3 linked regions of the Homo sapiens genome follow. The protein of the gene in region 2 purifies or fractionates together with the protein of the main gene of each other region. This does not show direct contact. Each region holds a gene or a part of one and is shown on either strand. Other genes may lie near its edges. The genes, in order: SUGT1, LRRC57 and MACIR.

Region 1 (10,711 bases), on a different chromosome or scaffold from region 2:
ACATCCATAAAATTTAAATGGGTGTTGCTCAACATGTCTGTCACATTTGAGCTACTTTACCTTGTATAAAAGACCAATTTAAAAATTCTCAAAGACAACTTTTAATTTGTCATGGGTAAAATGTATAAGTAACTTATTAAAAGGGGGCAATATACTTTATAAGAAACGTTACCACAGTAATTCCCAAGAAGAATGTGACAATAAGCTCTTTGACAATAATACTGTGCATCATCTGGTTTCTGTTCCAAAGCCTTAGTCAGCTCCTACAAAAACAAACATGTGGAGCGTCAGTAAAAGTTTGTAAGAAGCCATCAAATTCTAATTAAAACATAATTTTTAATCAAGTAACTTATTGTCAGAAGCTATTTGGAGGAAAGATAACACGGATATAATATTGGAGTTTTTCCTTATAAAAGGATCAATATCTCCCCCACTTCTCTTGCCCCTCCTCCCAAAAGTAGGCAATCTAATGTAGCATCTCTGTACCGTAAAGCTTTTAGTTCCTGGTCTATAGAACTTAATAAATGATCATTATTATCAGCTCATATATTCTGAAGAGTTTAATTGTTACACATTGACCATTACAGATTTCCTCCTACTAATTTGAAGAAGATTCAAACACCATATAGAATTTGAGATTCCTAGAAAATGTTAAGCTGTGCAATAAAAAAAGACCAGAAGTTAAATCTAGCACTCAGGGAGGTTAAGACAATCAATACATACACAATCAAGTGTACCTGGCCCTCTCCTAGCCTCTAACAATAGCACACAACTCTAATAAAACCCAACTAAATATTCTGTTCAAAGCCCAGATACAATCTAATAGATGGCTATGTCAACTACCAAGAGTTAACATTAGAGATTGAAACTTTTTTAACTTGTGCAGTCACAACATATAGGTGTGGTAGCTGGAAAAATAATGATGTAAGAGATTACACAATTAGGGAGATCAAAGACAAGTGCAGGAACACTTTTATTTTCTGCCAACTGCCTACAAACTCTAGGGATTTGGTAGTTTTCTTAAATGGTAAAATTATTTCAAGAGCCACATGTATCATTGACTTTGCTTTAACCTAGTAGTGTGACTCTCAGAAAGCAACATATACAGATGCTCCTCAACTCACATGGGGTTACAGTCAATCAACAGAAAGTAAGGCTCAAATCAAGAGAGCAAAGAAGCTGTAAGATGCTACTTTAAGGGCCTCACTTTGTAGCTTGCAGGCAGTTATAAGGAATTTGGACCTTACGTTTGATGGAAAGCCATGGAAAGTTCACTGTTAGTAAGGGGAACATGGTCCAATTTACTTTTTTTTAATGTCATTCTGGCTGCAGTATGGTAAATACATTATCAAATCAAGACTGGAAACGGAGACTTCTTAGGAAACTATTACATTAAGTCTAGGCTAGAAAAGGATGTTAGCCACAGAGGTGATGAAAAGAAATACGATTAAGTTGGAACATATTAGAAGCAGAGAGACTTGCTAATGGGTGAACATGTGGGATAAGAGAAACTGAAGATGACTCCAGGGTGTTGGGCTTGCCTAGATCTGTATGTGACATCCAGTAATCACTCAATGAAAAGTATTGATTTTTCTTCTTGCAGACTTTTTTCAGCCTTTTCCCCAGTCTCTACTTTGACTGCATCTCCTTTGCCATAGAATACAAAAATATTTGCCTCTCTAGTCTTAATCTTCTCAAAGTCACTAATAACCCCTTATAAAATCCAACTGATTCCTATCTGACTTGATCTCTCTGTGGCCCTTGACAATAATAACCAGGCCTTTCAGCTTACCATTCTGCTGCCTCTTAAAAACTAATGTTCTCCTTGGGCTCAGTACTTAAGACTTCTTCCCCTCTACAAACATTCTTTGATTCCTTAACTACTGGGGGGCTTCACATATGTGTTGATGCATGCTGATGACTCAAGTCTATCTTGAGCCTAGACAGTGGTCCTGGGCAACATCAGCATATAGTTTTCTCTAAACTTTACCTGAAATGTCCCAGAGGCAACTCATATACAAATATTCACAATCTAAAACTACTTTCTATCCTCAAACCTATTCCCCCATGCTGAAGGCAATCTTCTAAGTGCTATCATCCTAAGTGCTATCTAAATGAATGGCACCAGTTCCTACAACATTCCCCCAGCCAGAAACTCAGGAGACATCCCTTATATTCTAATCGTCACCAAGTCCGGTGCATTTTACATAAAACAACTCACCTCCATGCCCTCAATCACTGCCCTACATGCAAATATTCATCTTTGACCCGGTCTGCACTACCATCTTCCTGCTATCCACTATCCCTTGTGCCTCCTCCAATTCGCTATCTACTCTGCTTTTAAAGTAGGTTTTGTAATTCAGAAAATTTCATTTTCCTTCCTCCAAATTCTTGACGGATCTCCATAATCATATGATAAAACTGAAAACCCTGTGCTGGGATTTAATGCCTTTGATGGCCTGGCCTCACTGTCGCCTGGGCTGGAGTGCAATGGCGCGATCTCAGCTCACTGTAACCTCCACCTCCAGGGTTCAAGTGATTCTCCTGCCTCAGCCTCGCAGGTAGCTGATTACGGCTGCCCACCACCATGCCCGGCTAATTTTTTGTATTTTTAATAGAGACGGGGTTTCACCATGTTGGCCAGGCTGGTCTCGAATTCCTGACCTCGTGATCCGCCTGCCTCGGCCTCCCAGAGTGCTGGGACTATAGGCGTGAGCCACCGCGCCCGGCTGCACTTCTAATGAATTGCCAGGTGATGCTGATAATGCTGGTCCAAGAGCCATACATTAAAAACCAAGGTACTAATACTAGCCACATGACTATCCTAGGCAATTCTTCTCCTAGGTACATACAACCAAAAGAAATGCATGTGTTCACCAAAATACATGTACAAGAGTATTCACAGAAGCTTTTTGTTAGCTAATAACTAGAAATAACCCAGATGTCCACTGTTAGAATAAATTGCGCCGTACTTACGGCTATACAACATATATTTATACAATGGAATATTACACAGCAATGCGAAAGAACTACTACTTCACACAATATGAATGTATACTTATGTAATCATTAAAGCAAAAAGAGTGTCTACATTCAATAAAGCACCTACTGTATGATTCTGTTTATGAGTCAAGAACAAACAAAACTAACTGATGGTGATGGAGGTCAAAGCAGGAGTCAGCAGGACAGTAAGAAGAATTACTGGCTGAGAAGGCGCATTAAGGAGCATTATGAATGGAGATACTCTGTATCTTAATCTGGTGGTGTAAACATGTGAAAACTCATCAAACTATAGACTTAAAATCTGTGTTATTTACATAAATCATATATGCCTCCATAAAAATTTTTAAAGTAAAAGAAGATGGAAAGTGACAATAAAATTCATTATGTTAATACTGTTTAAAAGCAACTTTTATATAAACTGGATTCCCAAAGGAAGCACTAGGTCTAACACGACAATAACAAATGTAAATTAAAAGTCATAGCTGTCTAGCTAATACAAGAAATTATGGAGAAAAATTCTCAGTGCTTCCTGTAACATTATCCCCAAACTCATCCCAGAAGCCTTACTCCCAGTATCTAAAGGTCTATATATTTAGGTGTAAAAAACACACCTGGACCCTAAAAGGCCTTATAGGACCTGGCTCCTAGTTTCCTGTCCAACCTCTCTTAATCAAATGGGCCCTCTAATAAAAAGGGCCTTTTTGTTGCTTCACATACAGGCCAACTTCATTCCTACCTCAAGATCTGCACTGGCTCTTGGTCCTGCCTGGAATATTCTTTCCCCAGAGCTTCCAAGTTAATTCCCTTGTTCCTTCAAATCTCCACTCAAAGATCTCCTCAACGGAGGCTCTAGTACCATGTGGCACATTTCTTATAAAAGTCATAGCTAGAAAAGACGCTGTCTTGCCTCAAATTGTTAAACGTAACAGCAAAACAGGTTTCCTCTTTTCTGTGATTTAACGCAAAAACAAACAAAAACTCCTGGCTAAATTCTGTGACCCGCAGCATCATTTATCTTTAGGTTCTCCTTTAATTCTTATTATTTAACTCTTGATCTTTTACATTCCTTTACAGCTTTATGGTTTGCCTTCATTGCACACCTACAAAAAGTGATTTCTAGGTTAGCTGAGTATATAACCAAGACTTTAACCCACAGCAATCAGCGCCTTTGCACACAGCCACTCCAAAAAAAAATTTTGATGAATATACAAATGAGTGAATAATGAATTGTGATAAGACATCTGGAAAGTTTCAGGGACGTGAGGGAAAAGGGTTTTGCTCCAGTAGACTGACTTCATACCGACACTTTTACGTAAGAATGGCAAGAATTATTGTCAAACGAAAAAATTAACTTCATCGAGCCCAGAGTCCACTTCTCTAATCATAAATGTCATTAAAAAAAAAATCCTTTCAGCCAAACTACAAATGCCAACCATGCTCCCAAGAAATAGAGGAGGTTTTTCTCAGGAGCTGTAGGGAGTGGAAAGGGCAAGACAGGAGTCTGGGGTAACGCGGCTACCGTGTAACAGAGAAAAGAGACGGAGAATCTCAATACCGGAGCTGAGACGCAGCATCAACAAGAGCCTGGGTCCCTGTCCGGCGGTGCGGGGAGAAGGCGGGTCAGCGGGGACCCGAAGTGGCCCAGCTCCCCTAAGAAGAGTGGAGGAAGCAGAAATGGGCTCTCTCACCTCTAACGCCGCCTGGGGGTCCTCGTCGATTAGGGCATCCGAGAAGCTCTGGAAAAACCTGTCAGGAAAACAACGACTTCAGCAGGGCTCACTAGCCAAGGAAAGGGGGATAAAATAAATACCAAAGGGAAAGAAAAACATGCACCTCTGGGATGTTGCAGTTCCTGCTGCAGCCGCCGCCATCCCTCGTAGTCGCTGTTGCTGCCGCCGGAGCTGCTACTATCACGGTTACCACCTCCACCACCGCCCAAGGGGGAAACTTCTGGAGAAACACCAACCGAGCTTCCGTCCTAAATAGCCAGCGAGCAGCCACGCAGCGTGCTGCTAGGGGGACGGGAGGCGACACGCCGGCGCGGGGCCGGCTGGGACAGTGGAGGACCGATTCCTCCCAGCCGCACCCCGGCCCAGGACCCGCGCTCCCAGTCCCCGCCCCTCGCAGCCATGGTTACGGAGGCCTGGGGCGTACACGTTCTTCCTCCCTTCCACCGCGCCCACGCCAGCGGGCACTCCCACGGAGCTTTCAGTAGTACTTTAGAAGCACTTTTGTAACGTACTGTCATCCCTAAGGAACGTGTGGCGGTTAGGGGCGTTTGTATGTCTGTTAATAACGGAAGCTACTTCGAGCTCCCATTTTCCCTAGTTTTTATCATGGCTGCCACAGCTAGCCAAGCCCTTTCGCCTCCATTACGTCTTTAGCGGCTGCGTGGTCTCTTCCGGGAGCAGAGGCCCGGATGACGCGTGGATCCCCGCGATCTTTGGGCTGGGGATTCTAAACGACTGGGACTTGCCGGAAGTCATTCTGCACTAATAGCGGCAAAAAGCCTTCTGGTTCCTGGGGCGACGCGCCCGGCGGCCGTACTATTCACTTCCCCAGAACGCCACAGCCCAGGCTTTCTTCTTAGTGGGCTTCCCAGACCAAGAAGGGAAACCTTTCATCCGAAGGTACTGAGGGGAGGAAGGTGGCCTGAAGTTATCTCAGTGCCGCTTTGTTTCCCACCCCAGTCGGTCAGCCCTTCCTCAGCGCCCTTTAACCCTTGCAGATCGGATGGAGAAAGCTGCCAGCACGTTCTAGGGATGGGGGCAGATTGAGGAGCGGGAGGGAGTAGTCTTTGTCTAACTTTATACCAGTACCAAACTATGTTAATTTAATGTAGTTTTATAATAAATCTTTAAGTCCTGTAACTTATTCTCCCAAGATTGTTTTGGCTTATTCTACGGCCTTTGTATTTCTAGGTGAATTTTGGAATTAGCTTGTTAAAAAGGGGGGGGATTTTTTATTGGGCTCGCATTGAATCTATAGATCTGTTTGGGAAAACTAGTATCTTAACAACAAGTCCTTCAATCCATGAATATCATTCTTCCCCCACCATTTATTTAAGCGGTCTTTAATTTCTCCTGGCAATATTTTGTAGATTGCACATATATCTATATTTTAATGCAGCTGTGCTTGGATAGATTGCAGTATAGAGATCATATATATCTTTCATTAGATTTATTCTTGAGTATTTAGTGTTTTGTATACAATGTTAAATGGCATTTTGACTTTTTTATATTCTACTCGTAAGAATAAACAATATTGATTTTAACATACTGACCTTATATGCAAGCATCTTGCTAAGTTCCCTTGTTATTTGTAATACTCTGTAGATTCTTTCGGAATTTCTGTGATCAAAATCTTGCAATCCACGAATAAAGATGGTTTAACTTCTCTGTAACCTTTATACCTTTTATTTTTATTTATTTTTGCCTTTTGTTGCTGGCTAGTGTTTCCACTATTGAATAAAAACAGTGATAATGGACTTCCTTGTCTTGGTCATAACATCAGGAGGAAAGCATTGAATATCAACTGCTTTTTCTGCCTTTATTGAAATGTTCATTTGTATTTTTTAATGTTACTGTGAATTACCTTGGTTAGTTTTCAAATGTTATCTAAATGGCCAATTGTCCTTCTGGACCCCACTGACTCCAGTTGGGATGGCACTGTAAGAAGAGAGGCAGAGTCAGTGAAGGAGACAAGGTTTATTCAGGATTTACATACAAGGGTGGTCCGGTGGTGGAGGGCTGACCTGGAGAACTGCTACCATTTGTAAAAAGCACGTAGTCTATATAGCATTTTCACTTAGCACTCTCCTTCTAGCAACCTCCATTTAACCCCAAAGGGCCTTGATCTGTACAGCGTAAGATACGGGCCAGGGATGTGGATGTCCTTCATAGATAAGGAGTGAATCTCTGGGTTGGCTGCTCCTGGATTCCTTAGCCCAGGACTCCAAACGTAAGTTCTTCTTAGACCATAGGGTTAGTCTCAGGTATGCTCCGGTTATGGCTCAGCCATACACTAATGTGTGTACACCAGCCTCTGCCATGCACCAATACACATATATGTATGGCCTCTGAAAGGGTGAATTCCAAGACCGCCCTATGGGCCCAACATGAAAAGAAGTTCTATATATTATGGACATTGAAATCAATGAGATACCAAAACTACCACCAGAATGGCTTAAATTAAAAGGACTTCCAATACCAAGCACTGACAAGGATATGTAGCAACTGTATCTTTCATATATTGTTGGTGAGAGTTTAATCATTTTGGAAAACTGTGGTACCGTATGTCTGTTCTTGCATTGCTATAAATGAGACTAGGTAATTTATAAAGAAAAAATGTTTAATTCACTCATGGTTTTGCAGACTGTACGAGAAGCATAGCAGTTTCTACTTTTGCAGAGGCCTCAGGAAGCTTCCAATCACCGCACAAGGCAAAGGTAGAGCAGCCATCTTACATGGCAGGAGCAAGTAGGGTGGGGGTAGGTGCTACACATTTTTAAACAACCAGATCTCACAAGAATTCACTGTTGCAAGGACAGTACCAAGAGAGGTGGTACTTAACCATTCATGAGAAACCCACCCCTATGATCCAGTTACCTCCCACCAGGCCCCACCTCCGACATTGGGGATTGCAATTTGACATGTGATTTGGGTGGGGACACATATCCAAACTATATCAGACACTATCTACTAAAGCTAGTTATACACAGACCATAACCCAATAATTCTACCACTGGGCATATACCCAAGAGTATTTATTATTTATGATCATGTAGAAGAATATTCATTGCAGCATTACCCAAGGTAGCAAAAACTGGAAATAATCTAAATGTCCTTAAATAGGAGAAAAAAATATTACATAGCAATAGGAATGAACGACTACTACACACAACGATATGGATGAAGCTTATATACATAAGTTGTGGTAAAAAAAAAAAAAAGCCAGACGGAGTACATCATGATTGATTCCACTTAGATGAGAGGTATCATAAGGGAACCTCCTGGTTGTCAGGGAGGGTGGGGAACAGGAGCATGAAGAAATCTCGGATGCGGGAAATGTTACATATCTTGATCTGGCTGGTAATCACAGCAGTGTATTCAAACATAAAATTTTATCAAGTTATGCACAAGATTTGTGCAGGCTGGGTGCAGTGGCTCACGCCTGTAATCCCAACACTTTGGGAAGCCAAGGCAGAAAAATCACTTGAGCCCAGGAGTTCAAGACCAGCCTGGGCAAGATGGTGAGACCTCGTCTCTACAAAAAATAAATAAATAAAAAACATTAGCCAAGCATGGTGGCGCGTGCCTCAGCTACTTGGGAGGCTGAGGCAGGAGGATCGCTTGAGCCCAGGAGGTTGAGACTCTTATCGTGTTACTGCACTCCAGCCTACGTAACAGTGTGAGTCTCAACAACAACAACAAATTGTTCACTTTGATTTTGCAGATTCGTTTGAGGAGAAATGATATATTTCCCTTGTATTGCCTCTTCCAGTCCATGAACATAATTGCTTGTTTCATTCAGTTATTCGTATGTCTTTTAGTAAAGTTTTTATAATTTTCTCCATAAATTCTTGGCATCAGTTTATTGAAATCTTGGGAGGAAGGACAGACAAATGCTTAAGAAGTTATTAATAAATGTTTTCAGCCGGGCACAGTGGCTCACGCCTGTAATCCCAGCGCTTTGGGAGGCCGAGGCGGGCAGATCACCTGAGGTCAGGAGTTCGAGACCAGCCTGGCCAACTTGGTGAAACCTCATCTCTACTAAAAAATACAAAAATTAGCCGGGCATGGTGGCAGGCACCTTAATCCCAGCTACTTGGGAGGCAGAGGCAGGAGAATCGTTTGAATCCGGGAAGCAGAGGTTGCAGTGAGCCGAGATTGAGCCATTGCACTCAAGCCTGGAGGACAAGAGCGAGACTTATTGCAAAAAAAAAAAAAAAGTTAAAAAAAAAAGTTTTCATGTGCAAATGACACAACTAAATATACCAATGTACTTAGCTTTGGTAATTTAAAGAAGGGGAGGAGTAACCATGCTGGATTAAGTGGGCATTTATTGAAGGATAATTGATCTTCAAATTGAAGAGTGAAAATAGTCACTTATACTGTGTTACCTAACATTTTCCTAGGAAAGGGATCCTTTTCATTTAAAAGAGAAAACCATCCCAGTCTAACATTGAAGCCATCCTTAAGTGTATTACACTTGATAATTTCAAACTGAATCTAACAAAATCTCTTATTTGTGTCTTTTTCACAATAAAGCTTTCCCAAAGAGAAGTTTAAAAAAAAGAGAGAAAATTTTTAAAAGATTTGTACACTTTACCAAGTTTATACTTCAACAGAAAAAAGATTTAAAACAAAATCAGTAACAATCAAAATTTTAAATGCAAAGAGTCATGACATGTATAGTAACATCAAAATATTAAATACTGAAAAATAAATCTGACAAAAGATATGCAAGATGTGCACCGAAAACTAAAAAATATTGCAGCCAGGCGTGGTGGCTCACGTCTGTAATCCTGGCACTTTGGGAGGCCCAGGCGGGTGGATCACCTGAGGTCCAGGCTGGCCAATATGGCGAAACCCCATCTCTATTAAAAACACAAAACAAATTAGCTGGACGTGGTGGCGGGTGCTTGTAATCCCAGCTACTTGGGAGGCTGAGGCAGGAGAATTGCTTGAACCCGGGAGGCGGAGGTTGCAGTTAGCCGAGATTGCGCCATTGCACTCCAGCCTGGGTAATAGAGCAAGACTCTGTCTCAAAAAAAAAAAAAAACCCAACAATATTGCCGAGAGAAATTAAAGAAAACTAACAAATGGAGAGCTACTCCAAATTCATGAGTCAAGAAGACTCAATATTGTTGAGATCTCAGTTCTTCCAAGATTGACCTATAGACTCAACATGATCCCAATCAAAATCCCTAGTCAGGCATGGTGGCTCATGTCTAATCTCAGTTCTTGTTGGGGCTGAGGCAGGAGAATCGCTTAGAGGCAAGGAGTTGGAGACCAGCCTAGACAACAGAGACCCCATCTCTGAAATAAAGTACATTTAAAAATCCCAGAGCTGGCTGGGCGCGGTGGCTCACGCCTGTAATCCCAGCACTTTGGGAGGCCGAGGCAGGCGGATCACAAGGTCAGGAGATCGAGACCATCCTGGCTAACACAATCAAACCCTGTGTCTACTAAAAATACAAGAAAATTAGCCAGGCGTCATGGCAGGCACCTGTGGTCCCTGCTACTTGGGAGGCTGAGGCAGGAGAATGGCGTGAACCCGGGAGGAGGAGCTTGCAGTGAGCCGAGACTGCACCAATGCACTCCAGCCTGGGCGACAGAGCAAGACTCCGTCTCAAAAAAAAAAAAAAAAAAAAAAAAAAAAAAAAAAAAAAAAAAAATCCCAGAGCTTTTCCCTTTTAGAAGTTGACAAACTGATTCTAAAATTCAAATGGGGGAAAAATTCAAATGAAAATGCAAAGGACTTACAATAGCCAAATCAGCTTTGAAAAATAACAAAGTTGGAGAGATAACATTACTTCATCTCAAGACCTGTCAACCTTGTGGTATTGGCACAAAAATAGACAGATTAATGGAACAGAGAATCCATAAATAGACCCATACCATATGTAGACAGCTGATTTTTAACAAAGGTCCAAAGGTAATTCAGTGGAGAAAAAACAGTTGAAAAGGAGAGACTTTAAAACAGA
Region 2 (10,524 bases):
CTTAAAACCCCTTATTTTTGTCCTTTTTTGGTTTTTCTTCCTATCTTTTGGATTCTTCCTTACTTCTCTTGTTTTTATGGGCATTTTTCAAGTAGCTGTCTGTAATACTTCATATGTCATCTTCTCTCTAAACTTCTTCTAGAAAGCTCATTCATTAAAGTCCATCACTTTTGTTATGACCTCAAGATCTGTATCTATACTCTTACCTCTATTCTGCTCCCACGTTTCCAACTTTCAGTAAGATATTTCCATTTACAAGATTCACCACAGACAACTCAGCATGTCCATTCTCAATAGCACTACTGTTCCTTTAGGCCCTCAAGCTCAATACCAAGCAATTGTCTTTGACTCACCCCTTTTGCCATTTAAATACTAAAAGTCACCAAATTATTTGATTCTGCCCAGTATCATCTCAGACCATCACTTATTAGAAATCATGGGAACTTTAATAAGTTCAATAACTAGCAATGCAAGTTCTCAGACCTCATCCCAGCCCTACTGGATCAGAAACACTGAGGGTAGGGGGCTAGTGATCTCTTTAAACAAGCTTTTCTGGTTAATTCTGATGCATACTAAACTTAGAGAACCACTGAATAAAGGTACTGGCAGAGGTGAATGTGGAGCAAATCCTCAACTAATACTTGCTGCTTAATTGATTCAGTTTTTTTTTTCCCCCAAGAAGCTCTATAACATACAAGAATATCCACTTAAGGTAAAAAAACATGAGGCCAATTCCTCAAAGACAGACTGAATTTCATCATGATGTAAAATCACTACAATCTAGAAAAGTAATAACCACATGCAGCTTCTGGCCACTTTAATGGACCATGCAGATCTAGAAATACAGACACTAGAAAACTAAAGGCCATCCAGTCTCACAGTGTTTAATATTTCATCACTTGTGCCTTCATGCCTAGACAAGAATCTTTGGATTGGTTTTCCAGACAAATATTAATTGAAAGCTTCCAAAGTAATGGAAACAAATTTCAAATATTATAATTAAAGCTGTACAACAGTGAAATGGGCTATCTCCAGAAAGCCTATCACTTAATATTCTTCAGCAAAAGGAGACACACTTTGTAACAAAGATGTCAAAACCCCACACAAAACGAAAAACAAAACTGAATTACCTCTGACTCCCGACTCTGAGAACCTCAGTTTAGGCCTCATTTCCACATTATATCCCTGACATAGCTCCTGGCTAGCTGGTTAGGGGCATATATTTGAGGAGGATCTGAAGAAGTCTTCAAGATTTGTGAGACAGTAGTTTAACTTTTGAAATGATCTCTCCCTGTTACCTACCCCACCCTCCCCAAAACACCTACACAACTAACACATCCAGTGTCTCAACTAATTCCATGGCACTTTGGGCCTTGAAATTAGTTCAGCCTATAGAAGAAACCTCTCATTTAGCCTCTGATACTTAGCTCTATGATGGCAGTTTAGGAAACAAGAGGTTAACAGGTATCAGGAGACCTTAAAGCCACACATATGCTGTAGGAAAAAAAACCTTAAAGCTCTAGACCTGATTCTGGTTGAGGTTGAGTTCGATGACTTGCAGCTCTCCCACTGAGTCAGGTATACTTCGAATCTGGTTCTTAGAGAGATCCATCACATCCAGGTGCCGTAGGCTACAAAGTTGGGGAGGTAATGCTCCCAGTTGGTTCCCAGAGAGGCTCAGGGTCTTGAGGGCAGAGAGTTGCCCAAAGGTAGACGGCAGCTCTCTAAGGTGATTGTTGTTTAGGCTTAGCGTCTCTAGTTTTTTCAGATTGCATATCTCATCAGGCAGAACAGCTGGCAAAGAAAAATTTTTTTAAAACCTGAATGTGATAGAGCTGAAAACAACTTTGATGAAGTTTATAAAGACTATATGGCAGCCTGCTTCGCCTCTTGTTAATATATGTAAAACTCCCACATGTGCCATTTTTAGATATTGCATTTTACCAACATAGTCTTTAGAAGGTGAGGGTGCCATCAAAATGCCGGAGAGCATTTGTGTGTATAATGGGCTCCTTTTGTAAAGGGGCCCAAGGCACAATCCGACAGCAATTTTGTGATATTTGGAAGATCCTCCCCTTCTCATCCATCCCCCATTCCAAGTTAGGTAGCTTTGTTTACATTACATCCCCAAAATGTTCTTCTCTTTCAAGTCCAAATTAACCCAGTAACAATCATTATAACACCCAATCATTATAAGGCTTATTTTAGATGTAATTACAAGAAGTAGAAAGAAGGCTTCAAGGATTCCGGCATTCGCAACTTGAGCCCTCCTGCACGGTTTCATAACAAAAACAAAAATCAGCTTGTAAGAGAAAACCACCCCTGGTAACAGCTGATCACTAGCAAAAGCCTCCCTGGCGAGAGCCATACTCAGTTTGTTGTTGTTCAGGGAGAGGCTCTTCAGCAGAGTGAACTTTCCTATCAGCAAAGGCGGTAGGCTTTCGATCTTGTTGTTGGACAAGTCGATGGTCCTGAGATTGCTCGTCAGCTTCTGCAAGTCTGCGGGGAACTGGAGAAAGGAGTTCACAGCGTGGGGAATCCCGCACCGACTAAGTTCGCCGCCCCCGCCGTCCCTCTCCCTTTAAGTTCCCTGGTCGTGTCCCTCCCAGTCTCACCTCGGTCAGCCCTCGGTCCTTAAGCTGAAAGACACCAGTTTTCTGCGCCGTTTCCACATGAGCGCGGAGCGCACTGTTTCCCATCCTAGCGCCGCGGCTCAGGTCCCTGCGGGAAGGAAGCGCTGCTGTCACCGCCCAGTCCACCCGGTCGGCCTCCCGGCTGGGGCTCCTGCCCCAGCTCTCAACTCCCGCCGATCCCTGGCTCCTGGGGCCCGACCCAAGAGCGACAAGGAAGAAACGGAAGAACACACAGCCCGACCACCAAGCCCTGCCGCCTTTGCAGCTCTGCGGAGGCCAGGCGCCTCTGGGAGCCTACGGAAGATCAGGGAGCCCCGGACTCGCCTCCCACCGCTCAGCTGCCGTAAGGCTCCGCAGGTGAAGACCCAGGACCCGCAGTAGCCGGGATGCGCTCCCCGGCTTAGTCCCGGGCGGGAACGCCCTGTGACGTCATCGAGCCGCGCCGTGCGTTCGCCCTGCGATCCCGCTCACTCTTGGCGCCTTCGCGGAAGGTGCGTCCGAGCCATGGCCGCTGCCAACCCGTGGGACCCGGCGTCCGCGCCTAACGGCGCTGGGCTAGTGCTAGGCCACTTCATAGCTTCGGGGATGGTCAATCAGGTACGTGGGGGTGGCGGTGGTGTCATCAAGGGGGTGCCCAAGGTGGCAACAATATGGCTGTGAGTTGGTGCTGCTGGCTGTGGGAGTGGTGAGGGTCCTGGTTGGGGTCTGTACTAGAGTAATAAGAGCCCCTTCCAGGCAACAGCCGCGAACGTTCTGCCGTGGATGCTTGGAAAGCGGGGATCTGAGTAGATGGTGTTTAGGGTAGACTGTGTTTTGAGTGTCTGTAGGGTAAATTTGTCCCAGTCCAGTTTGTGGGAGATTAGACTGTTACCAGCCTTTTTTTCATCCAGTGATACTGCCTCTAGACTGTAGTGTAAGGGCGGGGATGGGAAATACGGGTCGTTCTGTCCCCTTGCGGAACAAGCATTTCCAACAACCCTCGTTTGTGGGAAGTGTTGAATCGTATTTGGGGCGGGAGGTGCTGGGTAGAGAAGAGCGCCAGAAGCTCTTTTTTGACATTTTTATTTTATTTTATTATTTATTTATTTATTTATATGAGACAGAGTCTCGCTCTAACGCCCAGGCTGGAGTGCAGTGGCGTGGTCTCGGCTCACTGCAACCTCCGCCTTCCTGGTTCAAGCGATTCTCCTGCCTCAGCCTCTGGAGTAGCTGGGACTACAGGCGCCCACCACCACACCCAGCTAATTTTTTTTTGTATGTTTAGTAGAGACGGGGTTTCACCTTGTAAGCCAGGATGGTCCCGATCTCCTGACCTCGTGATCCACCCGCCTCGGCCTCCCAAAGTGCTGGGATTACAGGCGTGAGCCACCGCGCCCGGCCTTGGCATCTTTAAAGGCAAAAAAAAAAAAAAAAAAAAAAAAGTATTGGCTAAAAAGATAAGACCTTGGAACGTGAATGGAGGAAGAGATTAATTTTGAGAAGGAGAGAAAAGAGACATTAACCCAAGGAGTCACGGAGTGGCAGTTTTAGGTTGGGCAAGAGGAGCATGTCGGAGGAAGGAGCCAACAGAGGGAGAAATTGAACATGTGAGGAAATAATGGAATGCAGTGACAGGAGGGCATGGGGCAAGTGGGATCAAGGGCATTGAGAAAAATGGGGAAATAAATTTTGATATATAGAGGAAGTTGAGAAATTTCACTAAAAAGAAAACAGAAAAGTTAAACTGATCTGTAAAAATCAGCACATATTAGCCGGCATGGTGGCGTACACCTGTAGTCCCAACTACTCCGCGGACCACATGGGTCCTGGAGGCTCAGATGGGAAGATGGCTTGAGCTTAAGAGATGGAGGTTGCAGTGAGATGCGATCGGGCCACTGCACTTAGCCTGGGCGACAGAGTGAGACCCTGTCTCAGGGAAAAAAAAAAAAAAAAAAGCACTACAAACATGATGGAAGATTTACGGAAAATACATAACTTTTTATAGTCAGAAGAGCCATTAGAGACTCTAATACCTTACAGTATTTTTTAATTTAAGAAACTAAGGCTTAGACCAAGAAACTTGCCCATGGTCACTAGACTGTTAAAGGAGAATTAGATCTTAGTACTCTCCCTTTTGACACATTGTATCCCCTCTCAAGATGAACTGTTATAAGAGGCTGTGATACTGTATTAAAAGATTTTAAGCTTTTGTTGAACACCCATTGTCTGGGTGATGGGGAGATTCAGGTGGTCCTAGTTGACTAACTTTACCAGGAGTGACCACAGCACTCTACAGTGTAATCCTTCCTCCCTTCTCTCCTGTGTTTTCTTTTTTTTTTGAGACGGAGTCTCGCTCTGTTGCCCAGGCTGGAGTGCAGTGGCACAGTCTTGGCTCACTGCAAGCTCCACCTCCTGGGTTCATGCCATTCTCCTGCCTCAGCCTCATGAGTAGCTGGGACTACAGGTGCTCACCACCTCACCCGGCTAATTTTTGTATTTTTAGTAGAAATGGGGTTTCACCATGTTAGCCAGGATGGTCTCGATCTCCTGACCTCGTGATCTGCCTGCCTCTGCCTCCCAAAGTGCTGGGATTACAGGCGTGAGCCACTGCACCCGGCCCTCTCCTGTATTTTCTTTTTCTTTTCTTTTCTTTTTTTTTTTTTTCTGAGACATAGTCTCCCTCTGTTGCCCAGGCTGGAGTGCAGTGGTGTGATCTTGGCTCACTGTACCCTCTGCCACCTGGGTTCAATCAATTCTCGTGCTCCCGAGTAGCTGGGACTACAGGCACCTGCCATCACACCTGCTAATTTTCATATTTTCAGTAGAGACGGGGTTTCACCATTTTGGCCAGGGTAGTCTCAAACTCCTGATCTCAGGTGATCTGCCTGTCTCGGCCTCCCAAAGTACTGGGAGCTGAACCCAGCCTTTTTCTTCTTATCAGGTTACCTAGTACTCTCACTTGTATTGTCCAGTTCTCCTGTCACAAAATAGTTTGGCAAACTCATAATAGAAAACATTTTTGAGGGTTCACTCCTGTAATCCCAACACTTTGGGAGGCCGAGGCGGGTGGATCACCTGAGGTCAGGAGTTTGAGATCAGCTGGGCCAACATGGTGAAACCCAGTCTCTACTACAAATACAAAAATCAGCCGGGTATAGTGGTAGGTGCCTGTAATCCCAGCTACTCGGGAAGCCGAGACATGAGAATCGCTTGAGCCCTGGAGGTGGAGATTGCAGTGAGCAAAGATCGTGCCACTGCACTCCAGCCTGGGTGACACAGTAAGACCCTGTCTCAAAAAAAAACAACCCCCCAACTTTTGGTACTTGGTATCCCTCTAAAGAGCATTGGTAGGAAATACAAATGCCTAAACCAAAGGAGTAAGGCACTGGTGACAGAATTTCAGGCATTGATGGGTGAACTCTTTTTTGGGGGTGGTGGTTGTCTTGGGGGTGTCTACTGTCTCTCAAGTAACATTAATTAGACAGTTACTGGTTTTACCTACAGTTAACATGTCCCACTCCATAGCTCCTTAAGATCCCACTCCATAGCTCCTTAAGACTTCTGACAACCTTACTACACAGCTAGTCCCAATGAGGGAGCTATTTACAGACTTGTAGGTTGGTTTTACTTTAAGCAAACTTTATACATAAAAACTTTTGTCTCTTTTTTTTTGTTTTTTTTGTTTTTTTCCCTGAGACAGAGTCTCACTCTGTTGCCCAGGCTGGAGTACAGTGGCACAATCTTGGCTCACTGCAACCTCCGCCTCCTTGGTTCAAGCAATTCTCCTGCCTCAGCTTCCTGAGTACCTGAGATTACAGGCGCGCACCACCACGCCCGGCTAATTTTTTTAATTTTTAGTAGAGATGGGGTTTCACCATATTGGTCAGGCTGGTCTCGAACTCCTGACCTCAAATGATCCACCCGCCTCGGCCTCCCAAAGTGCCGGGATTACAGGCATGAGCCACTACACCCAGCCAAAAACCTTTTCCTATTAGAAGGATTTAGCATTGATTCTTTCAAAATGATTTGTCACGTCATCCCTTCAAACAGCCCATCCCTTTAATGCACATCATTTTTTGTGCATTAAAAATTAAGACTATTGAGTTCCTGCTGGCAAGGATTTTTTAAAAATTGAGTGATTCCTAAAATTGTGATTTGATACAACTCTTCTAGAAAACATAGCTTGTTTGAAGTTTTGTTTCAATCTGTTAGAGAGTGATTTGGTGAAAGAAAGGTAGGGCTATCTGTAGGATAATGGGGTATTGCTTTAGTTTATTCCCCTAGGGACTGCTTTAGTGGCCTTACATTCTAGATATTTTTCCAGCAAGTGTGAGTGAGTCATGGAGTCTTGACCAAAGCTTGATCATTGCTTATTGGCAATTAATAAGATCAGGGTCTGGATCTACCAAAAAACCCACAGAATCTACTAATTCTGTTTTCTTAACTTGTGTCCTACTCTCCTCTATACCTCTTCTCCCATTTGAGAGCCTCTGCTCTTAAATTCTCTGCTATACTACCTCCCTTTTAATGTCCCTCAGCTAGAATTCAGTATGAAAAGGAAGGGATAGGAAAAAGAAGAAAGAGTGCCCACCAATTACAAGTTTATACATACATATATGGTATATAATGTTACCAGGATTTTTTTTTTTTTTTTTTGAGATGGAGTTTCGCTCTTACTGCCCAGGGTGGAGTGCAATGGCACGATCTCAGCTCACCACAACCTCCGCCTCCCGGGTTCAAGCAATGCTCCTGCCTCAGCCTCCCAAGTAGCTGAGATTACAGGCACATACCACCACGCCCGGCTAATTTTTGTATTTTTAGTAGAGACGGGGTTTCACCATGTTGGTCAGGCAGTTCTCGAACTCCTGACCTCATGATCCACCTGCCTCGGCCTCCCAAAGTGCTGGGATTACAGGCCAGGATTTTTATATTAAGTATAAAGGTTCTGGATTTGAGCTTCTTCTTGTGCCTAGCCACGGAATAAACAGAAATACCCTGAATAGACTCCTTTTTCTCAGGATCCTTTCATTTTCAGGGTTCTTTTGCCCTTTGGGGCATGTAATAGCAATATATAGTAACAATAGCTAAAGGAAAAGACTTTTCTGTATTCCCCAATCCCTGATACTTTTTTCTTTTTTTTTTTAAATGTGTTAAACTAAGTCTCAATCCTCAAATAGTTGTACTTCCTATTTATTATGGAAAATAAGCCTCCACCTCCCTAAGTGCAGGGATTACAGGTGAGAGCCACTGCACCTGACCCTCTTTCTTTCTTCTCTCCTTTTTTGTTATCTGCTTCTTAAACATTCTTATTTTTCCTCTGGTTTCTCTTGCATGTTCTTAGCTAAGCACCATTACTCTATTGTTGAACCCGACAGTTTACTAGTTTGCCAGATGTACAACTAAGATTAGTGTGTAAGCATGGAGAGAGGGAGATATACCAGTGAACAGGTTGGTTACAATGTGATAAATTGTAGAAAATATTTTACTTTCATTTACCTCCTGAGAGAAACAAAGAAAAAAGGGTCAGCTGATATGATGGAAGGGCAGTGGATTAGATGTGTTCTCACTTCCATCTTGGCACACACTGGCAGTGTGAAGTTGGAGTAATACTTTCCTGTTCCTCAATTTTGCCATCAGTAAAATATCTTGTGTTATCTACTTCAGTGAATGGCATAACTCTGTCCACTCACCTGAAGCAAAATCCTTAGAGTATTAACTGGATTTTATCCCTTACCATATCAACTAAGATTTGTCAATTCCATCTTTGCAGGAACTCCCATCTTTTCTTCCTTTCCTTTTTAACTGTTACTGACCTAGTCCACATTCTCATCCTTACCTGGAATACTGTAGCAGCCACCTGTTTAAATATCCAACCTCTCCAGTCTATTTCTCCACTAGTGTTTTTTCTTTATGTTAGCTAGTTACCAGGGTTTTCCTTCTTTTTTTTTTATTGTGGTAAAATACATATAACATAAAATTTACTATTTTAACTGTCTTAAAATGTACACTTCAGTGGCATTTACTATACTCAATATTGTGCAACTATTTTCAAAAACATCTTTATCACTCCAGATGTAAACTCTGTACTATTCCCTATTCCCTCCTCCCTCTTCATTAGTGTTTTTATTTTGTTTGTTTTGTAGGTGTATTTTTTTTTTTTTAAGAGAGAGTCTCTCTGTGTTGTTCAGGCTGGAGTGCAGTAGTGCGCTCACAGCTTACTGCAGCCTCAGCCTCCTGGGCTCAAGTGATTCTCCCATCTCAGCCTCCCTAGTAGCTGGGATTACAGGCATATGTCATCATGCCTGGCTGATTTTTGTATTTTTAGTAGAGACAGGGTTTCACCATGTTGGCCAGGCTGGTCTCCAACTTCTGATCTCAGGTGATCTACCCCCTCGGCCTCCCAAAGTGCTGGGATTACAGGTGTGAGCCACCACGCCCAGCCAGTTTTATTTTTCATACTGCCCCAGTTAAATATCCCCACCTTCCCCGCCGCCGCTGAGACAGGGTCTCACTCTGTTGCCCAGGCTGGAGTTGCAGTAGCATGATCACAGCTCACTACAGCCTCAATCTCCCAGGCTCAAGGGATCTTCCCACCCCAGCCTCCCAAGTAGCTGGGACTATAGGCACATGTCACCATGCCTGGCTAATTTTTTTTTTTTTTGAGACAGAGTCTCTCTCTGTCATCAGGCTGGAGTGCAATGGCGTGATCTCTGCTCACTGCAACCTTCGCCTCCTGGGTTCAAGCGATTCTCCTGTCACAGCCTCCCGAGTAGCTGGGACTACAGGCACGCCACCACACCCAGCTAATTTTTGTATTATTAGTAGAGATGGGGTTTCACCATGTTGGCCAGGATGGTCTCGATCTCCTGACCTCGTGATCTGCCCACCTCGGCCTCCCAAAGTGCTGGGATTACAGCCGTGAGCCACGGCGCCCGGCTGCCTGGCTAATTTTTTTAATTTTTTGTAGAGACAGGGTCTCCCTGTGTTGTGCAGGCTGGTCTCAAACTCCTGGGCTCAAGCAGTTCTCCTGCTTTAGCCTTCCAGAGTGCTGGGATTACAGGTGTGAGCCATCATGCCAGCCTGTATTTCTAAATAAGTATTATGTATGATTATATTACTTCTTCACCAGAAAATGTTCAGTTGCTCCCATTTTCTGCAGTATGATTGTTGAGCATAGCACTCAGGATCATCTATGATTATGTTGGAGACTATGTTTTCAGCTACATCTTACCCCTCTTTTCACATATATGCTAACACTGGTGGTTATTGAGCATTTGTAATGTTTTTGATCTTTCTATCTAGAATACCTTTTTCTTCCCATCCATTATGAGCCTCATGAGGGTAGAGAGCTTGTTTCACTCATATTTGAATATTTCGTTGACTAACTCAGTAAGTGTTCATAAAATTGATTATTTTTGGACAGTAAACTTTTACTATGAAGAGCCAGAGAGTAAATATGTAAGGCTTTGTGGGCCATATGGTTGCAGCTACACAACTAGGTGGTTGTATAAAAGCAGCCAGAGATAGTGTGTAAATGGATGAGAGAAGTCATGTTCCAATAAAACTTTATTTCTGGACCATGAAATTTGAATTTCAGATCATTTTCTTTTCTTTTTTAAGACGGAGTTTCGCTCTGTCACCCAGGCTGGAGTGCAGTGGCGCGATCTCGGCTCACTGCAACCTCTGCCTCCCAGGTTCAAGCAATTCTCCTGCCTCAGCCTCCCAAACTAGCTGACTAGCTGGGATTACAGGCGCCTGCCACCACGCCTGGCTAATTTTTTTTTTTTTTTTTTGAATAGAGACAGAGTTTCACCATGTTGGCCAGGCTGGTCTCAAACTCCTGACCTCAGGTAATCCACTTGCCATGGCCTCCCAAAATGTTGGGATTACAGGTGTGAGCCACTGCGCCCAG
Region 3 (10,237 bases), on a different chromosome or scaffold from region 2:
AAGTTGCAAATGGTAAAGTAAGAATATTTGAAAGAAGCCTCTAAGATGAGCATCTAGGTGCAGCTAAACATTTTGTTTTCATTGTTGTGTTGTACTTTGACAGTTAAGCCATTTTATTTCTGCTTAGTGTTCAGTTAGTATTCCTCCAGAGATGTTTTGGTTCATCTTTTACTTGTTTTTAGTGGTCTTTGAGATTAGTGGTTACAAAATATTTTCACTATTTTGAAAGAATTTTTAAAAATTGATGTTTTTTTTCCAAGTGCTTTTCCATTAGTGGTCTCTTCTTAAATAGCCACTCTGAAAATACTACCTGTTTTTCTTTTTCTTTCTTTCTTTCTTTCTTTCTTTCTTTCTTTCTTTCTTTCTTTCTTTCTTTCTTTCTTTCTTCCTTTCTTTCTTTCTTTCTTTCTTTTCTTTCTTGAAAATGTTTTGGTGGGCTTCAGGTTAGGGCCATGAAAAAAATGAAAATAAATGTTTTGATAGCTAGAATTAGAACTCACAGCTTCTACTGTACCAATTTCTCTGCCTAAAATTTGTCCTTTCATAATATAAACTTTAATGATGAATGTGATTTTTATTTACCAATATTTGAAAGGGCTATGTGCTGGTCCTCATATTTATAGTCTTATGATTTGTGATCAATGTTGTTAAATTTTTTCTTACTGCTGTTTTGTTAGTGATCTGTGCTGAAGCTTGAGATTCACGACTTTTTTGTGTGTTTACGAATTTTGTATGGACATAAACATTTCCAAATGGAGCTTTGTATATTTTTGGGAAAGGCACTCCCTTTTTTGGGTTCCTAGTGCCATTCAGGTTTACTGTTATTAGAAGGATTTATTTCCATGTCTGCCCTCCCCTCTGACCCAGTCTCAGGCCATCTCTTTATATGTGCACCAGTGCCTGCATAGTGTGGGGATATATAATAAGACTTAAGAAACATTGTTGAATGACTGAATAAGTGAATATCTAAGTGGGTACACCCGAAGAAAGAACTCAGACCTGTATGGGAATTCACCGTTCAAGCAGAAGGGTGTTTCCCTTTTTAAAAAAGTCATTGCCTTTCCATGTTGCTTTTGAGTAGGATAACAAATGAAACAGCCAAACTGAGACACTTTTGAGAGTTAAAGGGGGTTGCTTTCAATAATTATGCCAGGGTATTGACTATGAATTGAGATATATAGTCACTCTTCTTTTGAAAGGCATTCTTATTTACCTGTGATAATAACTATCACCTGAGAAATTCGATACATTTGGTAGTTAATGTTTGCAAACTTTTCTATTTGTAGAAGCTCCACTTGCAGTGAAATGTTGGGTGTCTTTTGCTTAGTCACCCATGACTTTCTTATCCAGAAGTCTGTGGGCAGCTCTTGGCCACTGCTTGGTTTTTTCCTATTTTTATTGCTTATGGGATAATGTCCCACTGCATTCTGTTTCAGCTTCTTATAACTGGAAGCATTTATTATATCTTGTAGCCTTTGCTCTATTTACTTCAGTCTTTGTTTTTATGCAGCATTTAGTCTATCTTCTAAGAATTTCACATGGATTCCTTTTCCTCTTGCTGACTGTTTTGGAGAGGAAATCTGTTGATATCTTTCCAAGCCTTCAGTGTTTAGAACATTGGCCAAAATCAGTTGCAAGCGTTAGAGAATTATAGATTTTTAAAGTATTCTAAAAATGTGTGTTATTTGAAAGGTACATGTTTTGGGAATTTTTATATTACAATCTTTTAATTGTTATAAGTGGGAGATGGGGGTAGAACCCTTACTGTAATTTTGTAGTAGATTTCTTTATGGGTTATGTCTTAAAGAAAACGTATAATCTTATACTAGTTAGTTTCTGGTCTTGTTCTTTTTATTTATTTTTCCCTCTTTTTCACCATATACCTCCTCCTCCTCCTCCTCCTCCTCCTGCTCTTCCTCCTCCTCCTCCTGCTCTTCCTCCTCCTCCCACAAAGCAGGAAGCAGAGTCAAAATTAGAAAAAGTGAGAATGTAATGGAGCTTCTGCACCTTGGTTTTCTTGTGTTGCTCCCTTGGACATTGTGTTTATATTCTATTTTTGGCTTGGCACTGGCATAATAGGAATAATCAGTTACTACTCTTTGTTTACTATGAAATTACCGATCATTTCCTAGATTTACACATCAGCTCCAGTGCAAGAGTTGGGTAATGTCTTCAAGGCTCCTCTGCTTTCAAATCCAGACTAAAGTTTTAGTTGATTTCTTTCTTTTGATGTTGAAAAAGAAACTCTTTGAAAGTGTAAATATTTTTCTAATGCATTTAAAAGCTTAAAAAGAAGAATATGTCACCAAATACATGAGGCAAATTATATGAAAGTTTGAATGAGATTTAAGACTGTCAAAACTATTCTTTAGGATTAAGACATTCAGATATTTCTAATGTTCCTCCTGCTTGTTTTAAATTGACATTTATAAAAGTATAAATGAAATCTATCCCACTTTGTGATAGATGTAGTCTTGAGAAATAAAGCGGAAATATATAACTGTATTTGATATCCAACCATATAACCAGACGGTATTGGTTGATACCTTTTTTTCTGTCGCATAATTTATGATTTTAGAAAATAGAAGCTCATAGGAGAAAGAGTCCATGATTCAGAAGGATTTTGTATAAGACTTTCCACGATGTGCCACCAAATCTTAATATTTTTCAAGTTGGAAATAACCATGCAGCTAAGTAGTTCCCCCAACCATTTCACAAATGAGGCAATAAAGCTTTTAGATAAAGTGCCTACCCATACACTTAAAATAGATTTTCACTTATAGAAATTACTTGATATACATTTTGCGGGATCATGATTATTGTGTAAAAGGCTATACATGTTGTCTTATCATTGAACAGAGGCCAGAGTGTAAAGTAAATGATCTTTGGAGTCAGACCAATTGGGGTTCCAATTCCTGCTGTGACTCTCATGTAGTATCACTTAAAAGAGTACTTTAAAATAGGGCTACTACTAAAGAGTACTTTAAAAATGGGATAATAATATTTTCTTCATGGAGTAGTTAAGATTAAATGATATAAATTGTATATCACTTTTGACATAAGGAAGATGCTAAAGAAATGTTCGTTTTTAGAACTCCTCTTTCCCATTAAAAATCCATTAAATAAGAAATGCAGATGAATGTTATTAGTATTGGGGAAATTCTTTGGGATAATTATATTAAATAAACATTTTGTCTGTAGGTAACAATTTTTGTTACAATTTACTGTGTGTTAAAACCAGAGGCTTCATTGGTGGGGTAGAATCAAGGCTTACTTTTCAAGATTTTTTGGTTCCCCAATTTGAGAATAGTTGGTGGCAAAATACATGAAAGGGAGTGTTTCTGTTATCTACATCTGAAGAAGTTGCAAAGGCTGATAAACATGCTAGTTTCTTGGAGTGACAGTTCTTGGTGCATTGGCTCCTTCCAGTTTCTCAAGCTAAAGAAGCACATATTAAACTCAGTAATTATCTATTTCCTTTGGATAAAACTCTCCTGTACTGGTAGGGAAAGTAATAAAGTTACAAACTCCTTGCCTTTTTTCTTGCAGTTTGTCTTTTGTTTGATAAGGTATTGTACTGTTGACACTTCTTGGGCTCTGTGCACCTACATAGATAAAATGAATCTACTCGCTTCATTTGACACCCCTCCAACTGCTTCTGTTGTTTAACCCAACAGAAAACCAACAACCAAAGAAACTTTTACAGGTGGAAAAGGACTTTGGAGGGTTTTCCTCGTCTCAGCAAATTAACCCTATTAACTAGGGAGGTAGGAGATAAAGATAGATTCTCTTACACATTAACTTCCCAGGTAAGAGAGGGAAGGCACAGAGGAGATGCTAGAAACCTTAAGTAAGGTGGTAACTATAAAAAAGTGCTTTTTCAGTCACTCTCTTTTTTTGTTGTGTTATCCAAGAGACTTCTAATCATTTGCCTCGCATCAGTCTTATGAAAGATTTACATTGTTGCTGCTTTATGGCTACAATGAGTCGATACCAAAAATTAATTGCATAATAATAGCATCACACGTTGTAAAGAGCTTTGCAGCATGTAAAGCATTCACCTACCTCATTTCATTTGATCCATCTAACAACTGTATTAGGGAGGAAGGGGGGTTATTACGGTCCACATTTTAGAGATTGATATTTATGCAGGGTCAAGAGGCAGAGTTCTTGGCAAGGCCAGAGCTAGGAACTATGGCCTGTGCTTTTGATCCTAGCCTAAGCATTATTTTTTTTCCATAGAGTACTGTGAATCGGTTGAACACATGAATAGGACTAGGATGGTGAAACCAATACTTATTACCTTACTTTTTCTTGTCTCTTTATTTAGCCCAGTTAGGTACTCCTAGTCTCTAGGTAGAATTTAAGTAACAGAGTACAGAGAAATACACATGATAAAATGTTTGAGGATGCATTTAGGTGAACAAACTCAACATCAATTGAATTAATTAATTATTGGGTCCTATATAACCTATACTTGATGTTACTACCTCCTGCTAGTTTTATTCTCTTTTGCAGTTAGAATTGATATCATGTTATAAGTTGTGTTACTTGTTAAATTAAAGGTTTATTTTTGTATTTCATGTTTAGTACCTGGAGTAGAACAGAAAAATTATTATGTCTGTGTTCCCTTGGGACTCATTGGAAATTGTACAGTGACATCTTCTGGGATTTAGTCTGGTAAGTTATATTTTGCTTTTTCCGTTCGTTAACAGTTGTATGAACACAATACCATAATGTGTTTTTTAAAGACTACATAAATAAACAAGTGAATGTGAAATGTCAGTTAATCAAGTGAATGTGAAATGTTGGTGTATTATTGCAAATATGTATACTATAATTACAAATTTTTAATGGTGAGAAATGAACTTATTGTTGCAATATGCAAACATTATTTTATTTGAAATGTTTGGCTAAGTTTTCCTTCCTTTAAATTTCTTCAACGTAAAGATCTTATGAAATAATATTTCAAAGTATAGTAGTTAGAGGTAACTGTTCCAATTTGGGGCAAATTTTAGTAAAAACATTAATCTCCAAACATTGCTGAAATAATTTGCAAAAAATTCTGGTTATATATTATCATACATAAAGAATGAGCCAACAGGTGTCTGAAAGGAGCATTATTTTCACTTAGTCGTACAGCAGTTCACTGAAAATGTGACATTCTTTTTATCACACCCTGAATTTAAACGGTTAAAAATATGCAATGCTGTTTTCTTCCTTTAGTTGTCTTTTTTCAGTGTGTCATCTGTGTATCTTTGCTGACATAGTTGTCCATGTGTCTCGAAGTCTTTGAAGGGAAAAAAGAAATTCATAATGAGCTATGGTAGCTCTTTAGCATCCTTAAGACTATATTAGTGTGACTTCATGCTTTGGTGTGTCATTCTACTTGGCCATTATCTTTGTGCATCCTTGCCTTGAATTATGTAAAGAGATCATAATCCTTAGAGAAAGCGGAGTTTCATAATAAGTGATTTCTAAATTTCTAGTCAGCAGCAGAATGATTCAAAGGAATGGTAGGGAAAAACAAATACTTTAATCTCATTAAGTAGATAAAACCTATTACATTTATGAAAATGCATTTTCGAACATTGGAAAATTGGAAACGTTACTAAAATTTTCAGTTTTGAGGAAAAGAGTAAGAAGTTTGAAAACCATAGTACAAAGTACTTGGAGAGGATATTGAATAAAAAACAATGTGGCCTGGTCACTGACTCAGCTAATAGAAATAAAGCACAAAACTAGAGCAATGGGTAGAAACTACAGGAATGTATGTGTATCTATGTCTATCCATCTATCTCTGTATATACCTATATTTATACAGTTGTCCCTTGGCATCCTTGGGGGATTGGTTCCAGGACTTCCCCCAGGTACCAAAATCTGATGATACGTAAGTCTCTGATACAAAAATGGTATAGTATTTGCCTATAACCTATGCACATCCTCTTGTATACTTTAAATAATCTGTAGATTACTTATAATACCTATTACAATGTAAATGTTACATAAATAGTGGCTGTACTGTATTATTTAGGGAATAATGACAAGAAAACAGTCTATACATATTCAGTGTAGATGTAATTTTTTGCTTTTTCAAATATTTTCTCTCTGTGATTGGTTGAATCCATGGATGCAGAACCCGTGGAGACAGGGTTGACTGTATATATGCATGTACATACAGATATATGTGTAAATAAATCGACATTCTAGCAGAGCTGCACAAGGTGAAATGAGTCATCTTGGGAGGCAGTGAGTTGCCTGTCACTGAAGGTGTTCAAACATACACTGGGAAACTATTAAGATTCCTTTTGATTCCAAAATTATACGGTACAAAAAAATTTAAAATTTGGAGGACCATCTGAAACGTGGAAATATGTGACAAAGAGTTCATTTATTTTTAATGTCAGGTTTATTATAACTTAGTAAAATCCGTCCTTTTAAAGTGTACGGTTTGATGCATTTTGACAAATGTATCCAGTTATGTAATGACCACTACAGTCAACAAATAGAACATTTTCATCACCCCCCAAAATTCCCTTTTTCCCCTTTGTAGTTATCCCCTCTCCCCACCCTAGGCCTTGGCAATTAATGATTGATTCTGGCAAATAGTTTTGCCTTTTCCAGAATGCCACGTAAGTAGAAACATGTAGTATATAGGTGTAATGTCTGCTTCTTTCACTTAATGTTTCCCCAGATTGTTCCACTTCATTGCTGAGTGGTATCCATTGTAGGGATGGACTGCAGTTTGTTTATCTCTTTCCCTGTTGATGGATATTTGGATTGTTTCCAGTTTCGGTGTTTGTGAATGAAGCTGTCATAAATATTCACATTCAGGTGTTTGTATGGACGTGTATTTTCATTTTTCTTGGGTTAGATATCTATGAGTATGGTGGCTGTGTTGTTTAATGAACATTTATTCAATTTTATAAGTAAATGCCAAACTGTTCTCTAACGTAGCTGCACCTGACAAAGGCTTCTAAGTAGCTAAAATAACTACGCCAAAGTGTGTGCAGATGAAGGAGCCCGATTCTCATTCAGCACAGATTTATTTTTATTTTATATGCAGTTTTAACACGTTTGGTTAGCAGATATTTCCAGCCCACAGAGGATTAGGAACAGTAAATTAGAAGGCCTAGGGGTAGGTTGTTAGCAATTATAAGCAGCCAAAAATTATGTTCACCAACATGACTATACAGTAATTACTGATTAAAAACAAAGGAGGGACTTAAAAGAGTGAAACTCTTCTATCTGATAAGTTCTATCTGACAAGTTCCCAAACCTATATGCATATTAGAATCACCTGGGAATCTTTTACAACTTGCAGAACCCAGGCTACACCCCAGATCAGTTAAATCACAAATCTGGGATGGAAAACAGACATCAGCAGTTTTTGAAGCTCCTTGCATGATTCTGGTGTAGACAAGTTTGGGAACCACATGCTAGAAGCACAACATGGACTTGGAGCCAGGGGGCCTGGGTTGTAATTATGGGCATTAACTATCTATGTGGCTCTGGGCAGGACCCTGTCTTGGTGGTTTCAGTGTCTTCTCTATATTTCAAGGTGGATGTTCCAGGTAGGTTATGTCCAAGATGATTCTGGCATTAAAACTATACCACTCTAGCCAGGGGCGGTGGCTCGCACCTGTAATTCTAGCTACTTGGGACATTAAGGAGGGAGGATTGCTTGAGACCAGCCTGGACAACATAGTGAGACCTCATCTCTAAAAGTATAAAAGAAATAATTAACCAGATTTGGTGATGCACACCTATGTCCCAGCTACTTGGGAGGCTGACGTGGGAGGATCGCTTGAGACCAGGAGTTTGAGGCTGCAGTGAGCTATCATTGCCCTACTGCACTCCAGCATGGGTGACAGAGCAAGACCCTGTGTCTAAACAAACAAACAAACAAACAAAAAACACAAAAATAGGTGGCTCTAGATATCATGATATCACTAGACTGGTATTAGCCATGCTTAGGAGACCCTGTTTCCCCAAAAATGGCTCTATAAGAAATGGTTTGATTCAAGTACTTCTTGAAAAGGATTTTCTTAACATGATGACATTTTTATTCTGCATATTTAAAATGGTTATGTTGATATCTGTTTTCTCTTATATGGTATTGCTGTATGTTGCTAAAAAAAACAGTGAAAGCATATGGAGCAGTGTTTTGATTACTGGGAGTGAATTTTTTTTATAATCTTATTTTTAAAAATTCTCAGAATGCAATTTCAAAAAGAATTCTTCGTATAGCAGTTCTGAAATTTATTAGCTATTTTCAGAGCTGGTCTAAGGAGCTAAGGCATCTAGATCATATTTTCAAAATGTTGCTCTTTGTGCCAAATAGATAGGAAGCTTGGCCTCTTGAAGAGTGTTCAAAGCTGTGCAGATTTTATACAGGTCTACTTTCTTGACTGTTCTTCTTGGTGCACGGGGTTCCACTCACGTGTGTTATGGTTTGGACCTGTTTGCTTTAGTCTCAGCCAGAATACTGGTATTGGGGTATTGAATGCTGTACCTAATGCTTTTGAAATGTACACTGTATATATTTTTGTAATATATATAAATGAATGAAATGTTATCTTTCCTTTTTTGAAGGAAAGTTTACATTTAGTTTGTAAATTTCTTTAAAGAGGTATCTAAGTGTTTTAAGTGAGAATAATATCAGGAGATTTGAGGTCAAAGAATGGCAGTCATGTCCCTTTCATTTATCTTTTTCTTCTTGGAAAAATCAAACACATCAAACAAAAGGAAGTACATCATCTCCTTTCTTCTTTTGATAATTCCTGTTTCTAAGCAATAAGAGGAGAAACAGGCACTGTTCTGGTGAGTGTATAGATGATACTCTTTAAAAGTGTTTACATTAATTTTTAGTTATATAAAAGAATATCCATATAAAAACCAGAAACATTATTAATAAGGTTTTGTGGTGCTTGCTATAAAAATCTAAAAAGTACATGTTCTTTGACTCAGCATTTTTACTTCTGGAATTTCCTGCAGAAATATTCATGTGTGCCTATGTGTACTCTTGCATGTTTTCATTGTAGAAAGAAGTAATCACTCACTCTTACATTTGTAAATACGCGGAAAAAGGAAGGATATACCAAAATATTAATAGGGGTTTCCTCAAGATATGTCCGGCATTGGTAGGGGATGAAGAATGATTTTGCCATTTATAGTACATCAATATGAATTATTTGGACTGGAGAGCTTTCAGTTTGCATGCATTGCTTTTATCGGTTTCAAAACAATAACAAGGAAAAACAATCACTTGAGCAGGTTATTGAGGTAAGAAAAAGATAGAAAGTATCTTCTGGAAGGGAAAGGTGGTTATAAAAAATGTTCATGGACTCTAAGACCTCTTTGAGATATCTCTGTGTATGGTTAAAGAAATTAGCAAGTAGGATGGTGCCCCAGGCTTAGAGCCTAGTGAAATAATTTTTGTTTCTAGGAGTGTGTCACTGACTCAGACACCCTATAGCATAGGAGCTGACTGTGGGCAATATCTGGATGTATCTTGGTGTTAAGTCACATTCTCAGCTTTTTGGAACCTTTGCTTTTCTTTCTCTCCATGAGAATTACATTGTACCCTACCTTTACCATATCCCTCCTATCATGAAAAATATGTTTGATAAACTAATTCAGTCTGTAATAGAGAAAAATAAAGGTGTTTTAAGAGAAGACAGCAAAAAAGAGCAATATTAAACTTGGCGGAATGAGTCTAACAATAGAATTTCATGCCTTTGACATCTCAGCTAAAGGTTTGGGGAGTTGGAATTTTTTTTAACAGGCATGCTGCTGATGTATAAATGAACTCTATATATAGGAAAGCTAATGAAGCAATTAATTTTTTGAGTTTCTTAAATGAAATACAGGTATTAGGATACGGTGTTTCTCAAAAAGAATTCTTTCTATACCATTTGTCAAATTTACCACCTGTTTTCAAAGCTGGTCTAAGGAGCCAAGGGCATTTAGGTTATATTTTGAAAGTATTGGTATTTATGCTCCAAATTTAGGTTTGGCCTCTCAGAGAGTATTCAGACCTATGCAGATTCTATAAGGGTTACAGGCTTTTGAACGTGCTTATCCTGGTGCACCAGGTTCTCCTATACATGTGTTGTGATTTGGACCTATTTGCTTTAGTTTTAGCCAAAATTTACAATTTCATTCTGTACCCAATGCTTTAAAAATGTACTGTGTACATTTTTAAAGAATTATTGTTACCTTTGTCTGATGTCAT

What was found.
Region 1: the proteins of LRRC57 (region 2) and SUGT1 purify together in Homo sapiens (co-immunoprecipitation; 3 studies listed by BioGRID and IntAct, with this or other methods). This does not show direct contact.
Region 3: the proteins of LRRC57 (region 2) and MACIR purify together in Homo sapiens (co-immunoprecipitation; 3 studies listed by BioGRID and IntAct, with this or other methods). This does not show direct contact.

The regions. Positions count from the first base shown.
Region 1 is NC_000013.11:52,647,084-52,657,794, reverse strand, and holds the start of SUGT1 (protein SGT1 homolog), read right to left. Parts: upstream 4,960-10,711; 5' UTR 4,875-4,959; coding exon 4,837-4,874; intron 4,750-4,836; coding exon 4,692-4,749; intron 4,645-4,691; exon of another isoform or gene 4,559-4,644; intron 264-4,558; coding exon 173-263; intron 1-172. UniProt on the Homo sapiens protein: May play a role in ubiquitination and subsequent proteasomal degradation of target proteins.
Region 2 is NC_000015.10:42,545,736-42,556,259, forward strand, and holds the start of LRRC57 (leucine-rich repeat-containing protein 57), read right to left. Parts: upstream 3,059-10,524; 5' UTR 2,958-3,058; intron 2,722-2,957; 5' UTR 2,700-2,721; coding exon 2,616-2,699; intron 2,510-2,615; coding exon 2,371-2,509; intron 1,795-2,370; coding exon 1,526-1,794; intron 1-1,525. Other genes in the region: HAUS2 (HAUS augmin-like complex subunit 2), read left to right, coding at 3,138-3,230.
Region 3 is NC_000005.10:103,261,318-103,271,554, forward strand, and holds part of MACIR (macrophage immunometabolism regulator), read left to right. Parts: intron 1-2,576; exon of another isoform or gene 2,577-2,689; intron 2,690-4,590; 5' UTR 4,591-4,680; intron 4,681-10,237. UniProt on the Homo sapiens protein: Regulates the macrophage function, by enhancing the resolution of inflammation and wound repair functions mediated by M2 macrophages. The regulation of macrophage function is, due at least in part, to its ability to inhibit glycolysis.